Linked DNA regions of Homo sapiens. The protein of the gene in region 4 binds, or shares a complex with, the protein of the main gene of each other region. Each region holds a gene or a part of one and is shown on either strand. Other genes may lie near its edges. The genes, in order: AHI1, MKS1, CEP290 and TMEM216.

Region 1 (7,028 bases), on a different chromosome or scaffold from region 4:
ATTGTTGCCAGTCCAGCCAAAAATCACTTTTAATTTAGGTCTATGAAGTTACCTATATGATTTGATCTTAAGAAACACAAAATTTTAATTAGAAAGTAAATTGTTTTCTTTTAATGTCTTTGTTACTGAGACTGTTTTGAATGCGCCATATTCTAAAGCTGCTTATCTTTTTTGTTTTTTGGAGATAGAGTCTTGCTCTGTCCCCCAGGCTGGAGTGCAATGGCGTGATCTTGGCTCACTGCAACCTCTGCCTCCTGGGTCAAGCAATTCTCCTGCCTCAGTAGATGGGATTACAGGTGCCTGCCATGAGACCCGGCTGATTTTTGTATTTTTAGTAGAGATGGGGTTTCACCATGTTGGTCAGGCTGGTGTTGTTGAACTCCTGACCTTAGGTGATCCACCTGCCTCAGCCTCCCAAGGTGCTAGGATTACAGGCATGAGGCACCGTGCCCAGTCAGCTGCTTATCTTTTAAATAAAGTGAATTTCAAAAACAGATACTTCATATTCTGGGCATAGCATCACACATACAACCATTACCAATATAATAATATTAAATGATTACTTAACAGACATCCTAATAACGCAAACACCTTTTATTCACATTTGCTGAGTAGCAATTACAGTGTTTTCTTCATTAGTTTTCCAACACTGGTAATGTAATTATGATGCAATTACTAACAATATAAGTACCAATACTTTGACCAACAATAGTCACAATGGTTTATAACAACTGAACTCAAAGGCCACGTTGATTTTTCCACCCACAACTTGATTCTGATTTTTCTAGAGTCATTCATAAGAACAAGAAGTAGTGGATCCTTTCTTCCTCCTTAGTATCTGAAAATTCTGAACTCTGAAGAGAAATTCCATTTGGTTTGTCATTTTCACCTCTGTGCATTTCGGCAGCTCTTAACTTTTCTTCAATTCTTTACTGGAAAGAAAAATACACAAAATGTACTAAATAAACTTGAATAATGTCTTCTGACTACAACCAAATCTTAGTGTGCTCAGGCAACAGCACAGGTAATAAAGGACATTGTGTAAAACACAAACACATACAAACACAACTAAAAAAGACCAAAATACTAATTTCCTATCTTCTAGTTTGCCTCTCAAACATTGTTAGCATCTTTTTGTATCATTAGCAATTGTTTAAGGCCTGCTCCTGCATTGACAGGTTAATGTAAGCAAGAAAGAAATAAAATCCCCAAATATAGACACTAAAAACTCCAAACCATAAGTAACTTCCAGAAATGAAGAGCAGGCAATCAGAGTATATGAAATTCTTCATTGAATGGGAAAAAAAGTCCTCATGGATGATATTCAGGGTTAGTGATTCGGAAGGATACAGATAATTTTATTAAATAGCATTCTTTCATTTAGTCTATGGCTATGCCTACTTTTATATAATTAGGTTATTACATTTTTCAAATCAATTAAAAAATGGGCTGTCTCATTTTTGACCAAGATAGTAACAATCAAGCATCCAGATGTGGCTTTGATGTAAAACAAATTATACAATTCATAAAAATCAAGAACCAATATGCAGATGAAACAAGAAGTTGCTTCCTTAGACAGCATGTAGTATTTGCACTACAACTAGTGTGAGATAAATTAGTGGGGCTAAACCTAACATTTTTTAATGCAATCATTCATACAGCATTGATAAGTTCTGGACTTACACAGAAAGGTTACTGTCCTTCTTCTAAAGAGAAAGGCTTAACACCTGGTTGTCCTTAGAAAACACACGGCAGTTTCAGAACGATGGCAAATCTGGTTAAGGTAGCAGTCAACTCCATCGACCACTCCTGAGAAAAGTGACAGCTGGCACACTGTGGCAAGAAAGGGCAATGGCTAACCATTCCTGAAGGGCTTTCCCTGGGGGCACAGGAGGTGTAGGGGACACCTGTGCTTTAAGGAACAGGCCCAATCTTAAATCAATGGTCGCACTATCTTTTCATATAAAACACATTTACACATGAGGGGCAAAAATTCTTTATCACTTGATGTTTCTTGATTTTAAATTTGTTAAACAGAGCTACTCCAGGTAAGCTTGTATCATATATAGAAGCCCAAAAATACGTTCTAGTGAAGCTCATGAATGCACATGAAGTTGAGTATAAAAATGGTACAGAATACGGCATGCCAAGGTATAATACCACTAGGGGCAAAAAAAGTCTCCCTGTACATATACAGAAAAAGTACGTAAAACTTTCACCAAATTAGGATCTGATAAAAATGGAAAAGAAAGTAGTTTCAATGAAGGCTGGGCTAAAGTCACAGAGAGACATATAAACTTCTGCAAAAGGCAGTGAGGAGGGTAAAGGATCTTACAGGAAGAATAAGGCAAAACAAAGTGAGAGGAAGAGTTCATGTTAGTGGGAGGACAAAAAAGAAGAAGAAAAACAGAAAAGGGAAGGGGGAGAAGGGGAGAAGAACAGCTGGAAATTAGTGAGATGGATCCTGCACGTGCAGAAGATGTAGGACAAGTGAAATCAATCAGGTGGTGACTGCACTGTGAGAAGTAAACAGAGAAGCCAGACGGACCTTCAGGAGAAGAACCCAAAGAGAAATTCAACTCGAAAAATCTAAAGTAGGCAGCAAAGATAACATCTTTGAGGGAAATGATTCAGACTCAGAAGAGGAAGAAACACACTGGATAGAGAATGACAAAGATGGCGCATAAAAGGGAGAAAAGAGACAGAATAAAGATGGTCATGTGCACCCTTCGGACACTGGCGGCTCCTCCTGACGATGGGAGGAAAATCAAGAGTGGCACACTGGCTTGATGAACGCTAACAGCAAAAGGACCTGAAAGCTAGGAGACAGCAGGGATGTGCTGAAAGAGGGAGGAGAAGACATCTAACCAAAAGACAAGGATAAATGCAAAGCCATTCCTTCTCTATCTTCTCATAAAGTATCTCTGTAATCTAACAGAGGAAGAAAGTAACGAAGCAAAGCCCTTTTTAAAGGCTCTTGTGATGAAAAGAGAAAGAAACATTCTTCTTAGCAAGCTTATGAAAACAAGTATGAAACTAGGTTAGTGTTTGTGTGTATGTTATGTCTGGGGAATAAGATTCATAAAAATACCGGGCCGTGGCCGGGCATGGTGGCTCATGCCTGTCATCCCAGCATTTTGGGAGGCTGAGGCGGGTGATCACTTGAGGTCAGGGGTTTGAGACCAGCCTGGCCAACATGGTGAAACCCCATCTCTACTAAAATACAAAAATTAGCCAGGTGTGGTGGTGGGTGCCTGTAATCCCAGCTACTCGGGAGGCTGAGGCAGGAGAATCACTTGAATCCAGGAGGTGGAGGTTACAGTGAGCCAAGATCGCACCATTGCAGTCCAGCCTGGGCAACACAGCAAGACTCCCTCTCAAAAAAACAAAAACAAAACACAACAAAAAAACCTGGACCTTACCCCACAAGACATTCAATCCAATAGATCTTTCCTGAAGGTTTACTTCTGTGGCAAGACACCAGGCTAAGTGCAGGGGAGGAAAAAAATGTGAGTATGTATTAAATAATAGCCCCTGACTGGAAGCACTGGCCATCTAATCAGAGTTAATATACAAAGCAATGTGTAAGAGAAACAGCCCTGAACTTGGGGCAAGAAGATTAATTCCTAGTTCAGGTACTTTGTAGCTGTAACTTTGAAACCTTGGTTTCTTTAAATGTAGAAACAACACGCTGTATTAGAAAATTTCTAAAAATTACATTCATTTTGAAAGAAATGATCAAGTAGTAAATATACAGTAAGTAGATAAATTAGAAAATGCACAAAGTTAAAATAGAAGAAAAAAATTACCATAATCTTACTACTCAGATAATTATTCATGTCTTTTGATGTATATTATATAAACTATTTTATAATCATTTTTTACTTAAAAATCATAAACATCTTTTCATGTCCATAAAAATACTTCCATAATATGATGAATAACCATATGATATTCTGTTATATAAATATTTCATATTTTAATCAACCCTTTATTTTAAAAACACTGCTCGAAGGAGTAGCCTTTTAACTAAATCTCTCCATGTATACTTGAATACTTTCCTATAAGAGATTCCTTGAAGTTGAACTGTCAGGTCAAAGAGATGCACATTTTGAAAACAAAACAAAACAAAAAAAAAACCCTAACATATTACCTAATTATACTTCACAAAGAATGGATCAATCTTATAGTATTACCAGCAGTGTAAGCGGGAATCCACATCCCATTTTCTCATCAATACTAGGTATGTATCATAAGTTTGAAACTTGTCATTTTGAAAGGGTAAAATACCATCTCATTTTATTGTTTTAATTTTCATTAATTTGATCAATGGATGGTAAACATTTTTCATATGTCTGTTGCCATTTATATTTATCCCTTTAAGAATCCTTTAAGAATGTCCTGTGTATATCTTTGTCCCGTTTTTCTACTGGTGTATTTTTTTTCTTGTTGAAAAAGCTCCTCTTAGAGCTTTTTATTTGTTAAGGGTATTACTCCTGGCCAGGTGCGGTGGCTCACGCCTGTAATCCCAGCACTTTGGGAGGCTGAGGCAGGTGGATGGCTTGAGGTCAGGAGTTCAAGACCAGCCTGGGAAACATGGCAAAACCCTGACTCTATTAAAATACAAAAATTAGCTGGGTGTGGTGACACGTGCCTGTAGTCCCAGCTACTCGGGAGGCTGAGGCAGGAGAATCACTTGAACCCGGGAGGTGGAGACTGCAGTGAGCTGAGATTGCACCACTGCATTCTAGGCTGGGTGACAGAGCAAGACGTCTCAAAACAACAACAACAACAAAAAAAAGAGTATTACTCTTCCATGGGTAAATCTCTTCCATCCCAGGTTATTGTTCATTTAAAAATTCTATGACTTTTTTTCTTTTTGACCTGCATAATTTTAAAGTTTCCATTATTTAAGAATCTGTTTTATAATGTTTTCCAATTCTGGTATCAAGGTTAAAAATAATTCCTTAGCCCATGATTACATAACTATGCATCTATATGCTTCTGTACAATTAGATTTTAGTTTTCTACAATGGAAAAATAAAAATATGAAAATTTTGACTCTAGTTCCTACAAAATGACAAATTTATAAATGTGGACATGAACAGCTTCGTAACATTTCACCTTGAACAGAAACTTCACTTCTACTTAATAGAGAAAAGGCCTTCTGGCAGGCCTTCCCTATACCCCAACCCCTACCATCCAAACACATTTTCCCACTGGCGTATCTCGGTGGAAAAAGTGGCCCACTCTTGAGCTGTAATCCTCTGGAGTTCCTTAGGCCCCCAGGGACTATCACTCTGCTCCGACACCGCAGATGGCTCCTTCTCAAGTGGCTCTTTCCTCTCAGTTTGTAAATATTCTTGTCATTCCCCTCTTTATAAAGATCTTGTCTATACCCTGTGTTTTCCACTAGTTACTGCCTAGCTTTTTCTTTCCTTTAAATTCCAGCTTCTAAAGAGAATAAGACTATTCTTACAGTCTTTTTCCCTTTGGGCTGGAGACAATCTGATTTATGCTTCCAGGTTTCTCCATCAAAACTATCTTCTCCAAGGTCGCAAATGGCCTCCCGGTTACAGATCCCAAATGGGACTTGTCAGTCCTTATTTTACTTGCCTCTCTCTGGTATTTGTCCTTGCTGACCATGCTTTCCTAAATCTTTTCCTGTTGACAACATAGCGCAACTTTCTATTGGTTTTCCCCTTACCTCTATTAGAGTGACTTTTCTGCCTGCTTGCTTGTTCTTCCTCATCCGTGTATCCATTATGTGTCCTTGGTCCTCATGGCTCTGTTCTTTTCTCATTTCAGAACTATAGGAGGGAAAGATCAGAAACAAGGAGCCAGTAAAAGAGAGCTGAGCTAAAAGCTCAGATGAGGCTTTGATCTAGGGCCGTGGCAGTGGAAACAAAAATGGGGATAAATGTGAGGATATGACAGAGAAAAACATCCGGCAGAACTAATGAGTATACACGGGGATGAGAGACAAGGAATTGCTTAAAATAACGTTAACAGACAAACCTTTGGCTGGTTGGGCTCCTTCTTAGCCATGATAAAGGGACAAGAATAAAATAAATTTCAAAATCTTAAACAATTATCTGTGGACTTACAGAATAAAATAAATTTCATCTGTCTCAGAAAAATATTAGATGCCTGGGAAAAATCAGAAAGTTCTATCAACTTAGGTGGAAACACACACAAACACACACACACACACACACACACACACAAAAGTATAGGACATTCATTCATGACAAGAAAAGAAATGAAGGAAATTTATATATAAGAAAGCTGTAACATCCTGATCTGTGGAATGAACAATGTAGCTTTCCAAATGATTCAATGGCAATAGCAAAATATAAAACAAATGTTTTGTGGATGAGTGTGTAGTAATGCACTTTATATTAGGAGAAAGAAAACACAAAAACAATGAAAAAAAAAGGAAAACTGAAGAATGGAACAGAGTATCTTCTAAGTTGTCTAGGAATGGTGAGAAACACCACAGAGGAGCTTGAAAAAGATACAAGAATTTCAAAATCAGGTATTAAATAGGACTGAATAGAGATTCTTGTGAACCAAATGATATTTCCCCAAAATTCACATGTTGACACCTGAACTCCTAATGTAACTGCATTTGGAGACAGGGGCTTCTAGGGAGATAACTAAGGTTAAATGGGGTCAGAAGAGTGGGGTTCTAATCTAATAAGACTAGAGTCCTTAGAAGATGGAAAGATGAAACCAGAGCGTGCTCTTTTTGCACAGAGAAGAGGCCATGTGAGGACACAACAAGAAGGCAGCCACCTCCAAGCCAGGAAGAGAGGCCTCACGGGAAACCAATCCTGCTGGCACCTTGATCTTGGGACTTCTAGCCCCCAGAACTGTGTGAAAATAAGTTTCTGTAGTTTAAGCAATGAAGTCTGTGGTATTCTCTGTGGCACCCTGAATAGACTAATGAAGAAATGTGTAAGTAAGTGAAATGAAGTCAGATGACTGAGAATGAAAAGGTCAGAAATTACAAAGAAGAAAGGACA
Region 2 (7,028 bases), on a different chromosome or scaffold from region 4:
GCTCCTCACTTCCCAGACGGGGCGGACAGTTTCTTTATTCATTTATTCACACAATCAATCATTCATTTACCATTTACTGAGTGCCTGCTATGTGCTAGTATATCTTAGGGGTATCTTGGTAACTAGATAGAAAAGATCCCCATCTCTCATGGAGCTGACATTCTGGGGGAAGCAGGGAGACAGACAAAAACCAAACCAACAAGAGACTATTGGGTAGTGATGAGTGCTATACTAAAAACAAAACGGGGAAGGGACTGAGTGATTGGGAGGCTCATTTAGACTGGGTGGTAAGAGAAGGCCTCTCAGAGGCGACACAGGCTGAGACCTAAACTCAGAAAGAACCAGCCATGCTAAGATATGGCAGAAAGGGTTTCAGACAAAGGAAACGGCCCTTAAAAGGCTACAAGGTGGGAATGAACCTGGCTGGGAAGAATGACTGGAAGGTTGTATGGAAGAGATAGGCAGGGGCCAGCTCATTCAGGGTATCAAGTTTACATTTTACTCTAAGTGGGAGGGGAAGCTGTTGGGGTTTTCAGCTCAAAAGGGACATAACTTGTTTACATTTTTTAAAGCTCAACTTGGCTTTGGTGTCTGTGGCAAATCAACGGCAAATGGGAGCAAGGCAGGAAGCAGGGGGATACATCAGAAGTTGAATGCACTGGCCTAGACAAGAGATGGTGGTGGCTTGGTGTAGGGTGCTGGAGAGAACAAATAGGTTCACAACAGCTTTTGAAGACAGAACGGACAGGAACTGTTGACAGATTGGCTGGCTATAGGGAGCTAGGGAAAGTGAGGGATCAAGGATGTTCCCTAGGTTTTTGGCATCAACAACTCAGTAGATGACACTGCCATTCTGTTAGGATGGGGAAGACCAGGGAGGAGAGGTTTGAGGGAAGAGGAGGAATCAAGAGTTCTTTTTGGTCATGTTAGACAGAAATGACAAAAGAGGTAACTGGATATGAGTCTGGAGTCCAGGGAAAAGGTTAAGGCTAGAGGCAGAAACCTGGGAGTCTGAGACGTATTGATGGTATTTAAGCCATAGGATGGATGACGTTGCCCAGGAAGACTGCAGACAGAGAGTAACAGAAGGCCTTGGCTTAGCTGTGGGTACTCTCACGGTTTAAGATCAACAGAAGGGAAGGCATCACCCAAGAAGGATGAGGGGCCACCAGCGAGATAGGAGAGAGAAGTGTGGAGCCAGAAGCCAGAGAAGTGTGTCATGCAGCACAGTGGGCTCTGGAAAATGCTTCAGGAAGGTCAAGCGAGGTGAAAGCAGGGAAGTCTCCACTGGGTTTGGTAAAGTGGATGTGATCTATGACCTTGAAAAGAACAGTAACAGTTTCAGCAGAGGAGTGGGAAAGGAAGCCTGACCAAATGCCTCTAGATCTGTCTGAATGGGTATAAAAGGAGAGACTTAAGAATATTACTTACGAGCAGTTGGCAATTCTACAAAGAAGTGGACGTAGAGATTGTCATACTCATAGCCTTGGGCTGAAACTACGAGAGAAAACAGGAAGCTATTTTAGCTTTTTCTCCTACCACCCTTAGCACCCAACCCAATCCTGAGGGGCCTACACACCCTGAGAGCAAGTCTTTTGAGGGCCAGGAACCCTCTGCGTTTCCAGGAAAGACTCACCACTGAGTTTCCCAAGTACAGCAGACAAGGCCTCTACCAGAGTGGAGGAGACTATTCACAGCTCCATCTAGGCACGTGCCTAAGCATCAAGAGATCTATGCTAGCAAGACACTTACCGACCTCTCCATTTACAAAGAGCCGGAGGGCACCTGGGACAGTCTAAGGTGAAGAGAAGTGGGAAAGGATCAGCAGGCCTGGAGGGAATTGGCACTTCTCCTCCAGCCCCATCTACAAATCTGCAGACGACCTGCCACTAGGGGTCAGGCCCTGGGTGTCACTACTGCACTTTCTCCCCACCCTGACACTTCTCCACAGATCTGTTTCCTTCATTCCTAAGATTCACAATGTAGGGGGAAAGTACATAATTTAAATGGCAGTGAGGACAATGCACTATGGGAAATTATTCAAGCAACAGCAACTGTCCTGTGGTGTGCAATGGGAAGCCAGAACGCCCTCTTCCCTTTAGATGGCTGAGGTCAAGAAACCAGGGAGTTTTCTTTTTTAATTATTTGTGCATGTCTTATCTAACTTTTAAATACTGAATATCTGTTGCTTATGCAATATGGAAATAGTGAAGGTTAATTTTTCAGAGAAAGAGAGGGAGACCAGGAAGTAATTCTATCCTTGTTTCCAGGTCTAGAGATAGAACTCTTAGAATGAGAAAAGACAAAGAACAGCACAACAGAATAGCTGAACTAAACCACTTTCTTTTTTTTTCAGACAGGGTCTTGATCTGTTGTCCAGGCTGGAATGCAGTGGTGTGATCATAGCTCAATGCAAACTCAAACTTCTAGGCTCAAGCAATCCTGCTGCCTCAGCATCATGAGTAGCTGGGACTACAGGTATGTATCACCATGCCTTGCTAATTTTTTTTTTTTTTTTTGTAGGGATGTGGTCTCACTATGTTGCCCAGGCTGCTCTCAAACTCCTGGCTTCAAGTGATCCTCCCACCTTGGCCTCACAAAGTGCTGGGATTATAGTCATGCGCCACCGCATCAGGCCTATATTTTTTAAGAGCCAAAATATGTGACAAACAGAAATGGCACCCCTGCCTCTCTATGGGGTATTTTGAAAAAATATCCACATGAAAGGTGAAGAAGACATTTTTCATCCTTATATTTATTTTTTAAATTAATTATAAAGTAATACCTAAATACATTACAACTGATAAAAATTCAAAGCTACCTAAGTTTAGGGAATAAAAAGCAAAAATCCCTAATATATCCCTCTCACCACCCACTACCCTTCTACCACATCTAATCCCACCCTCCCCAGAGAAAGCCACCCACAGCATGTGCATAGCCTTTCAGACCTTTTTCTTAGCATTAACAGTTCTCTATCAACATGCAATGTTGCAAAACACATAACAAGGACTATATGTGCTATTCTTTGACTTCCTTTTCACACTGTAGAGTATACCTTTGGGCCTTTAAGAGAGGTAGTGTAACTCATCCACAGTCAGAATGCTCCGGCTAAACACAGCTCACAGTGCTGCAGGAAGCCAAGCTACTCACCATCTCAAAGTCGGTGCCTACGAGGCTGCTGAGATACTCCTTGTGCCGGCCATAAAGCTGAGGAAACAAACCAAACCAAAACTCAAGATGCAACCCAAGCTAGACCAAAGTTCAGTTCTGAATGGGAAGAAGAAAAGCAATAGTGGGAAGGGTCAGCAAGAGCTGGAGGCGTAAGCACCTGACTCACCGCCATTTTACCGTGAAGCAGAGGCCCTGGAGTCAGCTGGTCTGGGGCAGAATCCTGACTCTCGCCCTTACAAGCTATGCCACCTTGGGCAGACTACTTAGCTCCTCAATCTCGGTTTCCCCACTTATAAGGTGGTAATAAGTGTTCACCTCAAAGGGTTGTTGTAAAGACTAAAGGAAATAAGGTATGTAAAGTACCTAGCACAGAACATGGTAAATGCTCAAATAAATGGTTATTGTTATTATTATAATATGATCAAAAACTTCTGTCTGATATGTCAGCAATGCTGCCTAAGTCAGAAGGGGCCATGAAGGGCAAGGCTTTTCCCGAGCAACTGCTGACATCAAGTTCAGAAATGGTCTCAGCTCCAGGCACTGAGGCTCATCCCTTGGATACTTGGAATGAACTTGCGCTTACATCCTTGAACACTCGCCGTTCCCGCTCCTCCTCCTCCGGCTGTGCGTGGGGGGAAACATTGTCGATCGTATATTTCCACAGCTCCTGCTTCTCCCCCTCCGTCTCAATCCTGTAAGGTCAAAACCACAGAAAGGAGCAACTCTAATAATGAGAGATGGGCCCTGGGATAGCTCCCAGCCCAGGGATGAGCGATCAGGGGCCATACACCTCACTAAAGTATATGATGATAAAAGTGGCTGTATTGACGACCAGGAGAGAGAAACAAAAGGGTAAAGCAGAGAGGGCACCAGACTAGACTCAGAAAGTATAGGTTCTGGGCCCATTTCTGGCTTGAAGTTACAGTCAAACTGTAAGGCACAACATTCCTGCCACCCAGTTCTCTCACCTGAAAAATGGACAGGTTGGGCCAGATAATTTCTAATTTACATTTCTGTCATTTCCAAGATACAGAGATGAGGAACAGTCAGCCCACAGGAAAAGCCTGGCTGAGTTCACCCCACTCTGTTCTGGTCAGGTCCTACATTCAGCAGCACAGAGAATCACTGTCATTTAACTGTACCACTGAAGTGATCCCTTTCAAATTGGTGCAGTTGCACATTTTCTGAGAAAGGAGTCCCTGGTTTTCTAAGGCCCTATGACTTGGAACAGAATACGAACCATTGCCTGGGAATGTAAAAGTTAGAACAGATGAAGGACTTTCTGACAGTCTAGTTGACTAGGGACAAAAAGTGCAACCAAGGGAAGGAATGCCAGTCTCCACTACCCCTTTCTTCCTCTCCTCACCTGTAGGGTCCTTTGAGGCCCGTGAAGTCAGGCTTTACTGTGATCACACCATTGCTATCCACCTTCAGAGTACACAGGACATGTTCATACTTCTTATAGCCAAGCCTAGAAATCAGGAAAACACCAAGGTTGAGGTCAATGGTCCTTCAGGGAAACAAGAAGAGATACTGAGCCCACTGCAGGGGAGAGAACAGAGGCTATAGGGAGAGCTGTCATGGTAAAACTTTCTTCCAAGTACAACTAAGAAAAAAAAGGAAGAAAAAGTCCCTTCCTCTCCTATAACCCAGGATGATAACAGGAAGGGGATAGCTGGTGAGAGGAGAAGAAGATGAGGATCTGAGTTGGCAGTGAGAAGCTTCACTCATAACTAAGAAGAGAAGGAAGAAAAAGTCCCTCCCTCCCCTATAACCTAGGATGATAATAACAGGAAGGGGAGAGCTGGTGAGAGGAGAAAAGGATGAGGCTCTAAGCTGGCAGTGAGAAGCGCCACTCACTTTTTATAGGGCCCCAGGTCTGCCATGATGTGCATTGTCTGAAGAGGGGTGTTAATGACGTGGTTGTTCCTGACAAACTCTTCTGAGGGCTCCCAGGTGACGATGCGTGACTTGAGGATGCCGCCCTCCCTGGGAGACACCACAGAAAGGTCACTTCCCTGGCACACCCCAATGGAGCACCCCAGTGGAGAGCCACTTCAGAATGGGAAGTTTGAGCTAGTGGACATACTGTTTTGTTTTGTTTTTTAAGAGCCAAAATATTTGACAAACAGAAATGACATCCCTTCCCTCTCTCTGAGGCACTTTGGAAAAATGTCCACATGAAGAGTGAGGAAGATATTTTATATTTTTATATTTATTTTTTAAATTAATTACAAAGTAATACTTGAATACTATATATAACCACTGATAAAAATGCAAAACTACCCAACTTTAGGAAATAAAAAGTAAAAGCTTGTCCCCCATCCCATGCCCGCACTCACATCCCTCGCCTGTCCTGCCGGCGACGCCTGACATTTGCCATTCGCTCGACCAAGAATGAAGGCACCTCGCTGGCTGCAGTGGTCATTCTCTGACAGTGCTGGGAAAAGCAAGCAGCCCTGTGTACGCCATCTGGTCAGGGCCACATGGAGCCAAGTACCTGAAGGGAAGTCTTCCTCCTGAAACCTCATCCAGGACCTGAACCCCACAGGTTCCGCCACCTCACAATTATACATGCTAACGGAGGGAGCAGTAGCCAAACAACCCAAAGAAGATTTCTACCACATCATGGTTTGCCTTTGGATTTTAAAAAGGAGTTATTTATGTTAATATTAAAATCAGTCTGCATTCTCTGAGCACAAACCAACAAAAAGTTGGGTTAGTGTGCTTGGTAGATGTTGAAGTTAACAAGGTGGTTAGAAAATGCCAAATGGGATACAAGCATTTTGTGGGAAATCCTCACATGGTAACTGAGCACTAACTGCATTTTCATTTGCTTTTCCAAAACAGACAACCCAAATTTTATTTAATTTATATATTTTTTTAAGAGACAGGGTCTCACCCAGGCTGCAGTGCAGTGGTGCTATCATAGCTCACTGCAACCTTGAACTCCTTGGCTCAAGTGATCCTCCCGCCTCAGCTTCCCACGTAGCCGGGACTACAGGTACATGCCACCATGCCCAGCTAATGTTATCAATCCACAGCTCTAATAATGAAAGCACGTCAATCTTTCAAAAACATTTATTGAATACCTGTTCCTTGCAGAGACCTACAGAGTCATAGACAAAAATAAAAAAAATAGGCTCTACCCTCGAGGAGCTTAAAATCTTACTGAGAAGACAGAAGCAACTGAAATGCAGTGACTGAAGAAAATGTAAAACAAGGTCACAAGGGTATTTTTGTCATAGGCAAATTGAGGACATAAGCCATTTTCCATAGCTATACTGAATTCCTCTTCAAACCCATATACTCAGAGTTTGGGCTGAATCCCCTGATGAATTTTATCTATATTGTTCCAGACTCCACTACCTGTCTTTTTTCATGATGCATGGAGGAAGTCAAGCCCAGTGGTTACTTCTCCCAGTATGCACTCTGCAAGCATATAATCAGAGATACTGGCAGCTCCCCCAGGCCCTCTAGCAGGCAGAGAAGGGAGCAGCAGCCTCACCACCTGTAGACTGTGCCCATTCTATTCCAGGCTGGCTGCCAGCAGCAGCAGCTCACAGCAGTTCCTAGACAGGCTACTTGTCTCCCCTTACTAGGCTCTGACATAACACACAGAACTCAGTGAGGCAAAAAAGCTAGAGGAAGCAAAGATGGAAGCTATGAGACCCTAGAAAGAACAATACCTCCTCCAAATTGGTGTATCTATCAGAGTCAGTGTAGGTAAAGATTCGTCGGTTTTTCTTGCCACCCGAATTCTCCAGCTTCAGGATCTCCTGACGGTACTGATAATCCAAAGGACTCTGACAGGCTGTTTCATTTTGGTACAGATCTACTTCAAACTGAGGTTACCA
Region 3 (6,601 bases), on a different chromosome or scaffold from region 4:
CATCAATATGTTTTCTACCATTTGTGAAGAAATGAATTTTCCAGTTTCAAGTACCTATTCAAAATTTTATTAAAAACCAGCAAATTAATTTTAATCTCTAGCCATAAAAACATAAGTAATAGTAAGCTCCTAAGCTTGGACAAAGGCTGGATTCTCTTCACTATAACTGAGTGGTAATTTAAAGACAACAATTTAATGTCACTAATTTTCAAAATTAAATAGTTTAAGCTCAATTTAATTTTGCTAGATATTTAACAAAACATACGGCTCAACCTCATAACCTATATGTGTGTATGTCTACATCTGTGTATATATCATAGGATTTGAGAATCTTAACACATGTATAAATAAGTATATATAAACTCCAATTTTAAATCTTAAAATTGCTGAATTTACCCTCATATTCTTTAAAAAACTTAAAGCATTATGAATGTAGAGAAATTCACCAGAGCTCACTGCCTATTTGATGGCTGTAACAAGTCTTCAAGTATATACTTTTATAATAAGTTGAAAATTTCATATAATTTTATTTATTAAGAATTCCAATCTAAGTATAAAGGTACAAGGTAGTGAGAAGGAAATACTACAGTTCGGAGAACTGCTTATTTCCAAGTATATTTAACTTATAAAGTTAATAAATAGTTAAATGAAACAAAGTTTATAGGTGACCTTTAGTAAATGGGGAAATTAACAGGACTTTCTTCTTCATCTTCAAACTCTTCAGAAGCAGCAACAGGGCTAGTTAATTCAACTCCCAATTGTTCTGAAAGTTTTTTTACCTTCTCTTCTAAGAGAATATTCTTCTTCACTTCTTCCTTGTAATTATACTTAAGATCTTCAATTTCTTCAAAAAATGAAGGATCAAAATTTTCCAGTTCTTTTTTCAGCTTCTTTATTTCCTCCTAATGGAAACATTATCTTTAAAAGTTGCATATAGGAAATATACATATTTTACGTTTGAACAAGGAGATTTAATTGTAAATATGAAAGCCAAAGTATTCCTGAATGGTCAAATACAGCAATAAAGGCAGAAGAATTAAGATTTTTCTTTGTTCCATTGTACAGTGTAAATAACTAAGTTGTTAACTGTCAAGTCCAGTTATGTATTCTGTAAGTTGTGTTCTAGTCTTTGACTAAAATTTATCATCTCTTATAATGGGACTTAATCTTTCTCTAAAAGCATATAAGAGCTTGTCAATAGAGCAATCAATCAAAAAGATTTTGTGATTCATAACATTGAAGTTAGTCTGGTTAAGAGTTTTGGTTTAGACTTCATTTATATTTTCCTTACTAATATCTAATATTTAATGAATAATGATCAATTTTTTATAAAGTTATTAATATGATCAGGGAAACCTTTGGGACTTCTGACAGGCATCTGGTGAAGAGACAATTCAAGCCTTAGTGACTATTTAGAATAGCCAGTGATCACTAGCTAATTCTCATATCCATGCCTTTTTGTCCTGTTTACAGTCTTAAAAGAGGTAAAACAGCAAATATTTTTTTAAGGGAACTATAACCTTAGGATTCCTGAAAAGAATTTCAAAAAAAAAATAAAGACACTGTTGCCAATGTGACCCAAAACTTAAGAACATACTAATGGCATATATTTGTTACAATTAAAAAATAAATTTACTACTTAATCCTATGTTGAGTCTGAATTTTTTGTTAACTCTAATATGTTAGGAATAGTCAGATGAACATAATTAACTTTGCAATATAAAGGTCAAATATAAGATGTTATTACTGAATTTTTTAGGATACGTAGTTAAAGATGGTAATGAAAATAGTTTTCAACAGCTGTTTTCACAAAACGATACTAAAATATAATTAAATATTACCTTCAAATGCTGCTTTTCTAGATCTGACATTTTGAGCTGTGTCTCTAGATCTTTTATTTTTTCCTTTAGTTGATCAGCATCTGTTGAAAAAGTCATACAAATTAGACTCAGCTTTTTCCCACTACGAATGAGTTCAAGGTAATGGATTTGTTCTAGAGAACAGAGATACATTTTATGAAACCTAGAACCTGGAAAACACTGGATGTTATGGCTGAAATACTTCAGGATGTAAACACTTAATGCTGCCTCCCTCCATCAAGTATTATAATTTCATAGCAGGCAGAAAGAGGTATGTGCTAGGTATTAGAAGTGTAGGCCAAGTTATTTTTTCTTCACATGATAGAAATTTTACATGGAAAAAATCCTAAAGCCAGGGAAACTTGTTAGGTACTAAAAGTACAACAGAAGAAAAGCAGACTGTTGGGTAAGGGACTATAACCATAAGCTAGCCAAATGCTCCCGCTATCCAACACAACACTGGCTATTCCATGTAGGTTATTACACATTTACTGTGCAATTACTATGTGCAAAACGTGTCATGCAGGCTGTGTAATACAAAGATAAGTAAGACATAGCCCTGATACTTTGGTAGGAAAACAAAAGTCTCCAAATATAGCACAAAAGTTCTAATTTATTGGATTCACCCTCCAAGTTAACACCTCTAACTTTATCAGCAGGCAAATAGGATTTTTGCTTTAATGCTATCTTTGCTAGATATCTCTTTTCTTTATATTATACTACATTTAATAAGTCATATTTTACAGCCATTGAAAAATAATAAAATACTAAAAGTTTGCGAAAGTAAGGGGCAGCAAACATTTTCATGGCTGGGACAAGTATCTTTTTTTTTTTTTTTTTTTTTGAGACAGTCTCACTCTGTCGCCCAGGCTAGAGTGCAGTGGTGCAATCTTGGCTCACTGCAACAACCACTGCCTCCCAGGTTAAAGCGATTCTCCTGCCTTAGCCTCCCTTGTAGCTGGGATAACAGGCAAGTGCCACCATGCCTGGCTAATTTTTATATTTTTAGTAGAGACAGGGTTTCACCATGTTGGCCAGAGTGGTCTCGAACTCCTGACCTCATGTGATCCACCCACTTCAGCCTCCCAAAGTGCTGGGATTACAGGTGTGGTGTGCTACTGTACTGGGCTTGGTATAAATATCTTAAAAGTTATCTTGCCATTTATATAGACAGTGATTTAGAATTTCCAAAACAGTTCTGGTTTGATCTTAAGCCTTAATCTTTGAAAAATGACAGGTAATCTGTCTACTTAGGAAATAAGGAATTTTGAGGGTTCAGAAATTCCCTTAAGAAACTGAGGAATGGAAAGATTAGAGAACTATCTATGGCCATATGACCCTTAATGCACATGCACCTGATCTCTGATCTCAGAAGCTAAGCACTGTTGGGCCTGGTTAGTATATGGATGGAAGGAAAATTATAAAATTTTCCTCACATCAACAGCATTAATACTGTGTCTAGTGTACATACCAAGCTGGCTGCTATGAGACATATTTTGAGAGTATTTAATATGTACTTTTAGTTACCAAGACGTAGCATAGCATAGCGGGTTAAGGACTAGGAATGCCAAGGAGCTGTGGAGTTTCATACATTTAGATTTTAATCCTGCCTCTATTTCCTAGCTGGCTTAGGGAATGGTTACTTAACCACTTTGAATTTGTTTATCACATAAAATGGAGACAGTAATACCTATCATATATGGTTGTAAATATAGAATGCTTGTAAGGCAATTAGCATAGTGTCTAGTACAACTCACACATGATGGCTTTTATTACAAATTAGTAATAGGACTACATAGCATACTGAAAAAGCTACAAGAGATAGTCAAAGATAGTTCAGATATAAATTGGTATAATCCTTTGGAGAGAATGGCATCTCTATCATCCTATCACAATGGCATAATTAGGTCAATAGATTAATCATATTTTATAGAAGCAGAAACTTGGAAGCAAACTAAATATCCATCAAAACATAAATGGTTCGATGTGCTTATACATGCAATAATACACTATGGAATTATTAAATGGATGAGATAATTTATGAACAGACCTCAAAAGATGTCCATGATAAACTGTTAAAGGCAAATATGCTAGAAATGTGTATAGTATTAGTTCAATTTTATGTTACTTGCCAAGAAAATATATATACGTAAATGCAAACAAAGTATTCTCTATCCATAGTAGTTTTGGTCTATAAAGTTAGCCCAATTAGTGAATATCAAACCACTGCTGCTACGGGAAATATGTACAGACATGCATATATATACATACACGCATATATATACATACACGCATATATATACATACACCTACATATCTCACACAGATGATAATCTTAAATCCTAAAGATAACTCATCCTGGTAAATTCTATTTATTTACATAAGAAAACAAGATTCAGAAGTGTTACATGACTCTCCTAAGGCTAGAGCAGTAACAAGCCTCAGAATTGGGATTCAAATCCCTTCCACCAGGCCCCAGAGCCACAGCTTCTTGCACTATGCTGTGCTGCCCTCTACTGTCTCCATCCTCTGCTCATTTCTCTATGAAAACTGAAATGAGGATACTGAGCACTGCCTTGTTGGACTTCTGCTGGGGACATGTAGGTTGGATTATTCAAACTTTCCAAGGCTCTGTGGATGTTTGCAAATGTGCTGCGAGTGTTGATTTGGGATTACATACACACTTTAGTGAGGAGGTGATTTAGAAAATACAGAATCCACAAATAATGAGGATATGTACATTGTACATATGAACATACAAACACATGTATGCATATGTGTGATATATATGTATACAAAATATGTGTGTATGTATATGCAGGAATGAGGAATGATTAGTAATCACTTTTGAATGGGAATGGAAGGGAGCAGAAAGATTTTCTTTTTACTTTGTAAACGGAAAAAAATATAGGCAGTATTTACTTATTTGCAGTTTTTAAAAATGTTCAGAGGACTTGAAAGAGCCTATACTTAGAAACTGGAAGCAACAGATTTAGTATTCATTGCTTAGCACTGTATTGTGATTAAATCTGTAACACCCAGATGGAGAACAAAGAGAAGAACACTTGGGTACTTGCTACTCTATAGTATAAACAACACAAAGAGAAAAATGGGAATATTTTTATATTAATAGCACAGAGAGACAAAAGACCCAAAGCTTATCAGGAATTCGATTTTACAGGGAGACAATGATCAGAAATCTGAGCCAAAAAAAAAAAAAAAAGGCAAACCCAAATTCAAAAACTTGGGGGTAGCTAACATGTTTTTTAAAATACATTACCAGGTATGGTGCTTTCAGCTCCACTTTGGTCCTTGTTAGCTTCTATCTGATGGATTAATTCTGCTTTCTCTTTATCCAGCTGATGATTAGCTAATCTAGAACACAATGATAATGTGTTAAAAAAATAAAGCAGATATTGCTTCATAAAATATATGGGCATTTCTTATGAACTAGTGATGTACAGTAATCAGAACAAGCTAGCCTTTATCGAAGTAAACATTTACTCTCAATGCTACAATGTCACCATTCTCAAACAAAAAGCCTGGAATACAAAAGCCTTCACGTTTTTCTTAATATCTGACCTGATGGCATTTGCAAGTGTGGTTTCGTTATAAGAGGAGCTTAATGAAAGCAGGCTACAGAGACCCCTGAAAGTAAAAAAATTACTTGTTCTCTTTCATTAGTATTTTCCTCTGGGAAGCTAAGGTTTAACTCATTCTATGCTCTTAGAAAAGTTTAAACTAAATTACAAACTGGAAACTTAGAGTTGGGTTTATCCTTTTTTTCTAGTGTGTATTATGAAAAAGAGTGATTAGCATTAGAGGGAAGAAATAAGGACCTAATAAGCCTGTTAGGCAGTAAAGTCGAAAAATGCTTGTCTCTAGTTGTAGCAATTCGGAGTATATAAAAACTAATAATTTTTTTTTTAAAGAAAAAAACAAAGTAGTCATATGAATACATGATGTACCTAAGAACTTGAAGCTCCCGTTTAAGGCCTTGCTCTGTCTCAGCACCTTCAGGAACATGTTTAAGAATCTTAATCTTTGAGGACAATGAAAAGTTAGAAGATAAGGTTTGCCATGGAAATATGAGGATTTATAAAGATACACATTTTTAACAAAGCGTAATATTAAAATATGGTTTTCAAAAGCACGCATAGGCAAATTTCTATGTTCTATTCACCATTCATTCAACAAGTATTGAGTAACTACTGCATAACTGGCATTGTCCTAGGCACAGAGGCTAACAGCAGTGAACAAAATGGCAATGTTCCATCTTGCATGGTCCTTGTTTAGTGGGGAAGCACAAAGAATGTGTGTTTAATATGATATGATGTAATATAGTGCCAGATGGTAGGAAGAGCTATCAAGAAAAAATAATCCAGGGTAAGAGGATAAAGAGTGATGGCAAGTAGTATAGGGTTAGGGTTAGGGTTAGGGAAGGTCTCTCTAAGGAGCCTCTATTTCAGCAGAGACATGAAGTCTGGGAGCAAGCTATGAGAATATTTGGGTGAACAGTATTCTAAACAAAGGAAACAAGTATAAGGACTTGACGCTTAAACGAGTTTGGATTGTTTAAAGTACTGAAAGAAGGTTACTGTGGTTAAAACATTGTGAATGAAATGAAGGGAAAAGTAGTAGAAGATGAGATTGGGAAGAAAACTGGGTGCCAGACCTCATATGTTGTTTTGGGATATGAAAAGAACTTTTAAGTTTTATTTTAGGGTGATGGAGAACCACTG
Region 4 (6,995 bases):
AAGGATAACATATCTGTGTCAGGGGTCTCCAAGATCACACCCAGTTTGGATGATTTGCTATAAGGACTTATGGGACCCAGCATACAGGTGTATTCATGCCTCTGATCTATTACAGTGAAATACAAAGCAAGGTCAACAAAGGGAAAAGATACATGAGGCACAGTCAAGGAGAAACTAGCAGCATGCTTCCAAGAGGTCTATCTCAGGGGGAATCACACAAGACGTTCATCATTCCTCCAGCAACAAATTCTGATAACATATGTGCAATGTTGTCTACTAGGAAAGCTCACTTGAGACTCAGGGTCCAAGTTTTATTTTTTTTATTTTTATTTTTTTAAACAGTTATGGTTCACTGCAGCCTCTTCCCTCTACCTCTTGGGCTCAAGCAATCTTCCTGCCTCAGCCTCCGAAGTAACTGGGACTACAGGTGTGCACCACCATGCCTGGCTAAATTTTTTTGTTTGGGTAGAGACAGGGTCTCACTGTGTTGTCCAGGCTGGTCTTGAACTCCTGAGCTCTATTGATCCTCCTGCCTCAGCTTCCCAAAGTGCTGGGATTACAGGCATGAGCCACTGGACCCAGCCCCCAAGGTTTTTACTGGGAGCTGATCATGAAGGCACCCTCTGCCTAACATGTTTCAAAACTCCAGACTCTGAGAAGGAGAACAGGTATTTAGCATAAGCCACATTGTTTGTACAGTTTAGGCACTGTGAGCCACTTTAAACTGGTGGGAACACTACCAAAAGCCAAGTTCCCTTACGCCAGGCAAGGGTCAACCTTGCAGTTGGGCCTCTCCAAAGACAGCAGCCTCAGGTCTGCTATGTTAAGTTTTTTCTGTACAGTCTCATAAGCAAATGGGTTTTTTATTTTTTCCAGGAAGACATGGTTGGTCATACCTCTGAAAATCAATGTAATTCATATTAGCAGAATAAAGGAGAAAAATCATATAGTCCTCTCAACGGATTAAGAGAACACACTTAATAAAATATATCATAAGCCTTTTAGCAAACTAGGATAATAAGGGACTTTCTTAATCTGATAAAGAGTATCTACAAAAAAAATCTATAGCCACCATATTAATGGTGAGATATTGAACGCTTCCCCTGAGGTTAGGAACAAGACAAGACTATCCATCATCACCACTTATAGTCAACATTACACTGCCAGTCCTGGCCAGTGCAATAAGGCAAGAAAAAGAAATTGAAGGTATAGAGATTGAGAAGGAAGTAAAAATGTCTTTATTTACTGATGATGTGATCATGTACATAACAAGCCTCCTAGAAATAATCAATTTAGCAAGGGCACTGGCTGTTGGGACAGTCTTGCATGGGTCCTAAGCATCCCTGCATGTTCTTACTATGTCAAACCAGAAAGTCTGTCTCCTGATACTGAGCACAGAAGCAATTAAGTAGACCAAAGTGACTATAGTGTGATGATAGTATAATTTCTCCCTCCCCAGTGGAAAGGGCCTGGCTTTATTTGCTGCTTGCTAAAAAGGGTACTGAGCCTTTGGCTCTGGGCTCCACCAAGCTGTGGCATAACTCCTTGAGTGCAGCACCATCTGGGGTCATTGTGTCACTCATAGGACTTGGGAGCAGGGGGCCCCCAGGTTGCCATGCTGATGTTCCTGCTGTTTGCCATAAGTAATTTGGCCTCACTGTCAGCTTTTGGCATCTATGAAGTTGTGGCATACTCTGACATAGATTAGCCAACTTTTTCTTAAAGGGTCAGATGGTATTTAAGGCTGTGGGCCATGTGGTCTCTGTTGCAACTACTTAACATTGCCATAATAGCATGAAAGCTGCAATATATAATAACATGTAAGTAAGTGACCATGATGACGTTCTCCAAAGAACTTTTATTTACAAAAACAAGCAGCTGGCCCACTTTCTTTGTTTTTCTTTTGAGACATAGTTTCACTCTTGTTGCCCAGGCTGGAGTGCAATGGCTTGGTCTCAGCTCACTGCAACCTCCGCCTCCCAGGTTCAAGCGATTCTTATGCCTCAGCCCCCCAAGTAGCTGGGATTAGAGGCATGTGCCATCATGCCCGGCTAATTTTGTATTTTTAGTAGAGATGGGGTTTCACCATGTTGGTCAGGCTGGTCTTGAATTCCTGACCTCAAGTGATCCACCCGCCTCAGCCTCCCAAAGTGCTGGGATTACAGGTGTGAGCCACCGCGCCAGGTGCAGCTGGCCCACTTTCTTTCCATATCAGGCTCAGAGCAGGAACTTTTCTAATGTCTCTTGTCTTGCAGGCAGCGAAGATGGGGAAGCAGGATCTGGATTCCTTTCCACCTTAACCTCTGTGCTCTGCGCTTTCCTACTTACCCTAAAGGGCTTCCTTGCCCTCCAGCTTGCAGTTAAGTTGTGTCAGCGGGAGACATAAGCAGAGATCAGAGATGGGAGAAGGGAAATGGAGGTCCCTGCTATATTTATCCACTAGCCTCCTAGAGTGTGAGGGTTCCTAGTGGGAGGCCTTCTATGCACATATTACTCTCCAGCTTCAGGGAATTGTTTCAGGCCCTTCCCTTTTAAGCCTAGAAGTAACAATTACCGCCCCACCACATCCCAATTAGCCAGGGGTACAGCACTTTGCTTAAAGCTTAGTCACTCTTGGCCGGGGGCATTAATCACACCTGTAATCCCAGCACTTTGGGAGGCGGGGGGGGGGGGGGGGGGGGGGGGGGGGGGCGGGTCACCTGAGGTCAGGAGTTCCAGACCAGCCTGGCCAACATGGTGAAACCCCGTCTCTACTAAAAATGCAAAAATATTTAGCCGGGTGTGGTGGGGGGCACCTGTAATCCCCGCTACTTGGGAGGCTGAGACTGGAGAATCGCTTGAACCCAGGAGGCGGAGGTTGCAGTGACCAGAGATAGCGCCATTGCACTCCAGCCTGGGTTACAAGAGCAAAACTCCGTCTCAAAAATAAAATGAAATAAATAAAATAAAGCTTAGTCACCTTCCTCAGGCTACCTGGTTGGAGCGTGCCATCTGTTTCCTGCTTTACCCTGATTGACAACGGGCTAACAGCCAAGTCAAGTCAACCTGAGTCCTCTCAAAACCCTTCTTTTTGCACTCCCCTGCCTGCAGCAACACAGTTTTCTGTTTTTTTTTTTTTTTGAGACAGAGTCTCACTGTCGCCCAGGCTGGAGTGCGGTGGCGCGATCTCAGCTCACTGCAACCTCCGCCTCCCGGGTTCGAGCGATTCTCCTACCTCAGCCTCCCAAGTAGCTGTAACTACTGGCGCGCGCCAGTACGCCCGGCTAATTTTTGTATTTTTAGTAGAGACGGGGTTTCGCCATGTTGGCCAGGCTGATTTCGAACTCCTGACCTCAGGTGATCCATCACCTCGGCCTCCCAAAGTGCTGGGATTACAGGCGTGAGCCACTAAGCCCGGCCAGCAACACGCTTTTACCGCTGCAAATCCGGATCAGGCAGGCTTTGAAGCCCAGCTCACAGGCCGTCTCTTGGAAACTAACTTAGATTTCCACCTGGGAGCACTTTGTCCTCTCAGCTCCCACTGCACCACTTTATGGATCGCGTGGTGACTCGTTTCATTTTATTTATGTGTGTTCCTGGAAAGGACGCTCTATTTCCTTCGTGTCTCTACCTGGTAGGTAAATCGGCCGCAGAAAAGACCAATGCTAACTCCACCCTGCATTTGCAGAGATCCGTCGCTCACACCTTTTCTTGTCTTCCGTTGAAAAAAGAGAATCGTGGGAGTAGGACCTATTTGCCAATCTCCTGGTAACACTATCACAACTGGCCACTTCCGCCCAACGCCCGGTAGTCTGAGAGCCTCCAAGGTCCTCCCCCGCACCCCTGAGGTCCTGCAGACGACGGCGTCGTGGGTGGTCACCGTTATCCCTTAGGTCTGGAGAGGGGACATCCGAGCGAGGGCCACTTGCGGCCAGGCCCGAGCTCGTCCAGCTCCGGGTGACCACAGAGTGCCGCGGGCGGGCAGAGGGGCCGGAAACCCAGGCCGCTTCGTCCCTGTTTCCGGCAGCGCCGCGCTGCTCCGGGAGCCGCTGTGGCAGCGTATGCTGCCACGGGGACTGAAGATGGCGCCGCGAGGTGAGATTCCGGAGGTGTGTGAGTCGCTGGTCCCTTTCCCTTCGGTCGCTCCCTCCCACCTCTGTCCCAGAGCTTGACCTAAACCCTCCATTCTCTAGCGTTAGGGACGTCGCGCCTCCCTGGTCCAAAGCCGGCTTCCGCGGTCCCGCCCACCCTGGGTGCCTGAAGGTCTCAAGGTGCACAGCTCAAATAAACGCAGATCCTTGGCTGGGCCACTTCTAGGCTGGCTCAGGTGCGAATCTGTTGGTCTCTGCGCCCCAACTTCCCCTCCCAAATAGTGACAGAGTGAGATCTTTGAGATGTCTGTCAGCTGCGAGTTACCTCTTGACTTTTATTCCTGAAGCCGAAGAGTCGAGTTTCACGGTGATTCCTAGGAAAGGAGGGAAGCCCCCTCCACTCCCACCCCCGTACCCTCGCCCCCTCATTATCAGCAACCAGAAGTGCCCCTGAGTGGCCGGTCCCATTAGTTGCAGCGTCTAGTTTCCCCAAAGTTAGACACCAACCCATACGAGCAGAGAGGGAGCTGCCTTCCGGCCCATCCCACTTCTCTGTGCTCCTTTTTCAGGTAAACGGTTGTCCTCCACCCCGCTGGAAATCCTGTTCTTTCTGAACGGGTGGTATAATGCTACCTATTTCCTGCTGGAACTTTTCATATTTCTGTATAAAGGTAAGGAAGGCTTGGGGCTTGACGACAGCATCCCTTCCCCACTTCAGCTCAGAGCCAATTCCTACCAAGAACCTTCTTATTTTCCGTTCTTTTCTGCCCCCTGCAGTTCTTTGTCGCTGCAAGGCAGGCCTCCTCATCAGATGGCTTCTTTGAGTATGATTCCATAGGCAGCCCCTCAGCAAGAATTTCTTGAGTTTGAGAAATGTGGGCTTCTCCATTCTGACTCTGCCCACATCACTGCTCTTTGCTGAGCTCCACTGTAAGCCCACTGGTGACCCTTAGAAACTATTCAGTGGCCTGTGTACCCATGTACATCCAATCATTTTGGAGAGTGGAGTCCCCAGAGACTTTTGGAGTTAGGAGTAAAACACCATAATAATGAGCCTGAGTCGCATTGTGAGTTTATGTATCCTGCTGCTGTAATAATGCCCACATCTCACTAACTAGTTCATGGAAAGCTGAGACTGATGTCCTCTTTTTTCCCAAGTGTGTGGCAGTTCTTGTGGGTGCTGTTATATGCTGTTTGCAAACTCTGGCTTTTGTATTGGCAGGTGTCCTGCTACCATATCCAACAGCTAACCTAGTACTGGATGTGGTGATGCTCCTCCTTTATCTTGGAATTGAAGTAATTCGCCTGTTTTTTGGTAAGTGTTGTCCAGAGAATATTTCCACTCCTTATGAGACAAGCTGGTATCTGTAACTTGATTAACAAGAAAAGTACATAACCTAGGTTGACTATCATAGACTGGATCTGTATATCCTATTACTCCGTCTCTGAAGTTTCAAGTTGCTGCTTCATACATTGGGTCAAGATTTACCTGTTTGTTGCTCTGTAAGGCTAGAGATGGGCAATAGAATGGGATATTAGATGATTCCTTCCCAGCTGCCTAACTGCAAGAAGAGTGCTTGGTTCTTCTCACTAGTATTCTTAGGGGAATAGGTTCAGTTGTAACTCCACGTCAGGGCAGGCAGTGTATCCTGTACAGATCAGTACTAAGATCCCTAACAATTCTCTGAATAAGGATCTCTGTAGGAGTTTTTTGTTTTTTTTTTTTGAGATGGAGTCTCACTCTGTCCCCAGGCTGGAGTGCAATGGCACGATCTCGGATCACTGCAATCTCTGCCTCCCGGGATCAAGCGATTCTCCTGCCTCAGCCTCCTGAGTAGCTGGGATTACAGGCGTGCACCACTGCTCCCAGCTAATTTTTGTATTTTTAATAGAGACGGGGTTTCACCATGTTGGCCAGGATGGTCTCGATCTCTTGACCTTGTGATCTGCCTGTGTCGGCCTCCCAAGGTGGTGGGATTACAAATGTGGGCCACTGCACCTGGTTGGATTTTTTTTTTTTTTTGAGATGGAGTCTCACTCTGTCACCTGGGCTGGAGTGCAGTGGCACCATCTCGGCTCACTGCAGCCTCCGCCTCCCGGGTTCAAGCAATTCTCCTGCCTCAGCCTCCTGAGTAGCTGGGACTGCAGGCGCCTGCCACCATGCCCGGCAAGTTTTTATATTTTTAGTAGAGATAGAGTTTCACCATGTTGGCTAGGATGGTCTCGATCTCCTGACCTCATGATCCACCCGCCTTGGCCTCCCAAAGTGCTGGGATTATAGGTGTGAGCCATCACACCTGGCCAGATTTTGTTTTTTAAACATTTATTTATTTGAGACAGGGTCTCATTCTGTCACCTAGGCTGTAGTACAGTGGTACGATCATAGCTCACAGCAGCCTTGAAGCCCTGGGCTCAAGCAGTCCTCCAACTTCAGCCTCCTGAGTAGCTGGGACCACAGGTGTGCGACATCATACCTGGCTAATTTTGTGTTTTTTGTAGAGACAGTGTCTTGCCTTGTTGCCCAGGCTGGTCTGAAGCTCCTGGCCTCAAGCAATCTTCCTGCCTTGGCCTCCCCAAGGTGCTGGGATTACAGGCGTGAGCCAACATGCCTGGCCTGTAGGACAAGTTTTATAACCCCAGAAATACAGAGCAAAACCCTTATTTGTTAGAATATGTCATCCCTGAAATCAACGTTAAAGCACAAACTTAGGAACAAAATTACTTGCAACATATAAGAAAGGATAAAAGAAGGCTCACATAAATCACTAAGGAAAAAACAAAATAACTTTAAAAATTGGCTGGGCGCAGTGGCTCACGTCTGTAATCCCAGCACTTTGGGAGGCCGAGGTGGGTGGATCATTTGAGGTGAAGAGTTTGAGACCAGCTTGGCCAACATGGTGGCCGTCTCTACTAAAAATACAAAAA

What was found.
Region 1: TMEM216 (region 4) and AHI1 share a complex: the UniProt entries of both Homo sapiens proteins name them as parts of the tectonic-like complex.
Region 2: TMEM216 (region 4) and MKS1 share a complex: the UniProt entries of both Homo sapiens proteins name them as parts of the tectonic-like complex.
Region 3: TMEM216 (region 4) and CEP290 share a complex: the UniProt entries of both Homo sapiens proteins name them as parts of the tectonic-like complex.

What each region holds. Positions count from the first base shown.
Region 1 is NC_000006.12:135,284,716-135,291,743, forward strand, and holds part of AHI1 (jouberin), read right to left. Parts: intron 5,811-7,028; coding exon 5,708-5,810; intron 933-5,707; coding exon 930-932; coding exon of another isoform or gene 911-929; 3' UTR 1-910. UniProt on the Homo sapiens protein: Involved in vesicle trafficking and required for ciliogenesis, formation of primary non-motile cilium, and recruitment of RAB8A to the basal body of primary cilium.
Region 2 is NC_000017.11:58,209,228-58,216,255, forward strand, and holds part of MKS1 (tectonic-like complex member MKS1), read right to left. Parts: intron 7,017-7,028; coding exon 6,861-7,016; intron 5,672-6,860; exon of another isoform or gene 5,612-5,671; coding exon 5,514-5,611; intron 5,161-5,513; coding exon 5,032-5,160; intron 4,643-5,031; coding exon 4,538-4,642; intron 3,864-4,537; coding exon 3,755-3,863; intron 3,208-3,754; coding exon 3,151-3,207; intron 1,796-3,150; coding exon 1,753-1,795; intron 1,498-1,752; coding exon 1,432-1,497; intron 1-1,431. UniProt on the Homo sapiens protein: Component of the tectonic-like complex, a complex localized at the transition zone of primary cilia and acting as a barrier that prevents diffusion of transmembrane proteins between the cilia and plasma membranes.
Region 3 is NC_000012.12:88,048,513-88,055,113, forward strand, and holds the end of CEP290 (centrosomal protein of 290 kDa), read right to left. Parts: exon of another isoform or gene 5,989-6,601; intron 5,902-5,988; coding exon 5,828-5,901; intron 5,235-5,827; coding exon 5,140-5,234; intron 1,922-5,139; coding exon 1,842-1,921; intron 1,649-1,841; exon of another isoform or gene 903-1,648; coding exon 672-902; 3' UTR 504-671; downstream 1-503. UniProt on the Homo sapiens protein: Involved in early and late steps in cilia formation. Its association with CCP110 is required for inhibition of primary cilia formation by CCP110.
Region 4 is NC_000011.10:61,388,592-61,395,586, forward strand, and holds the start of TMEM216 (transmembrane protein 216), read left to right. Parts: upstream 1-3,995; 5' UTR 3,996-4,040; coding exon 4,041-4,074; exon of another isoform or gene 4,075-4,088; intron 4,089-4,639; coding exon 4,640-4,741; intron 4,742-5,292; coding exon 5,293-5,385; intron 5,386-6,995. UniProt on the Homo sapiens protein: Part of the tectonic-like complex which is required for tissue-specific ciliogenesis and may regulate ciliary membrane composition.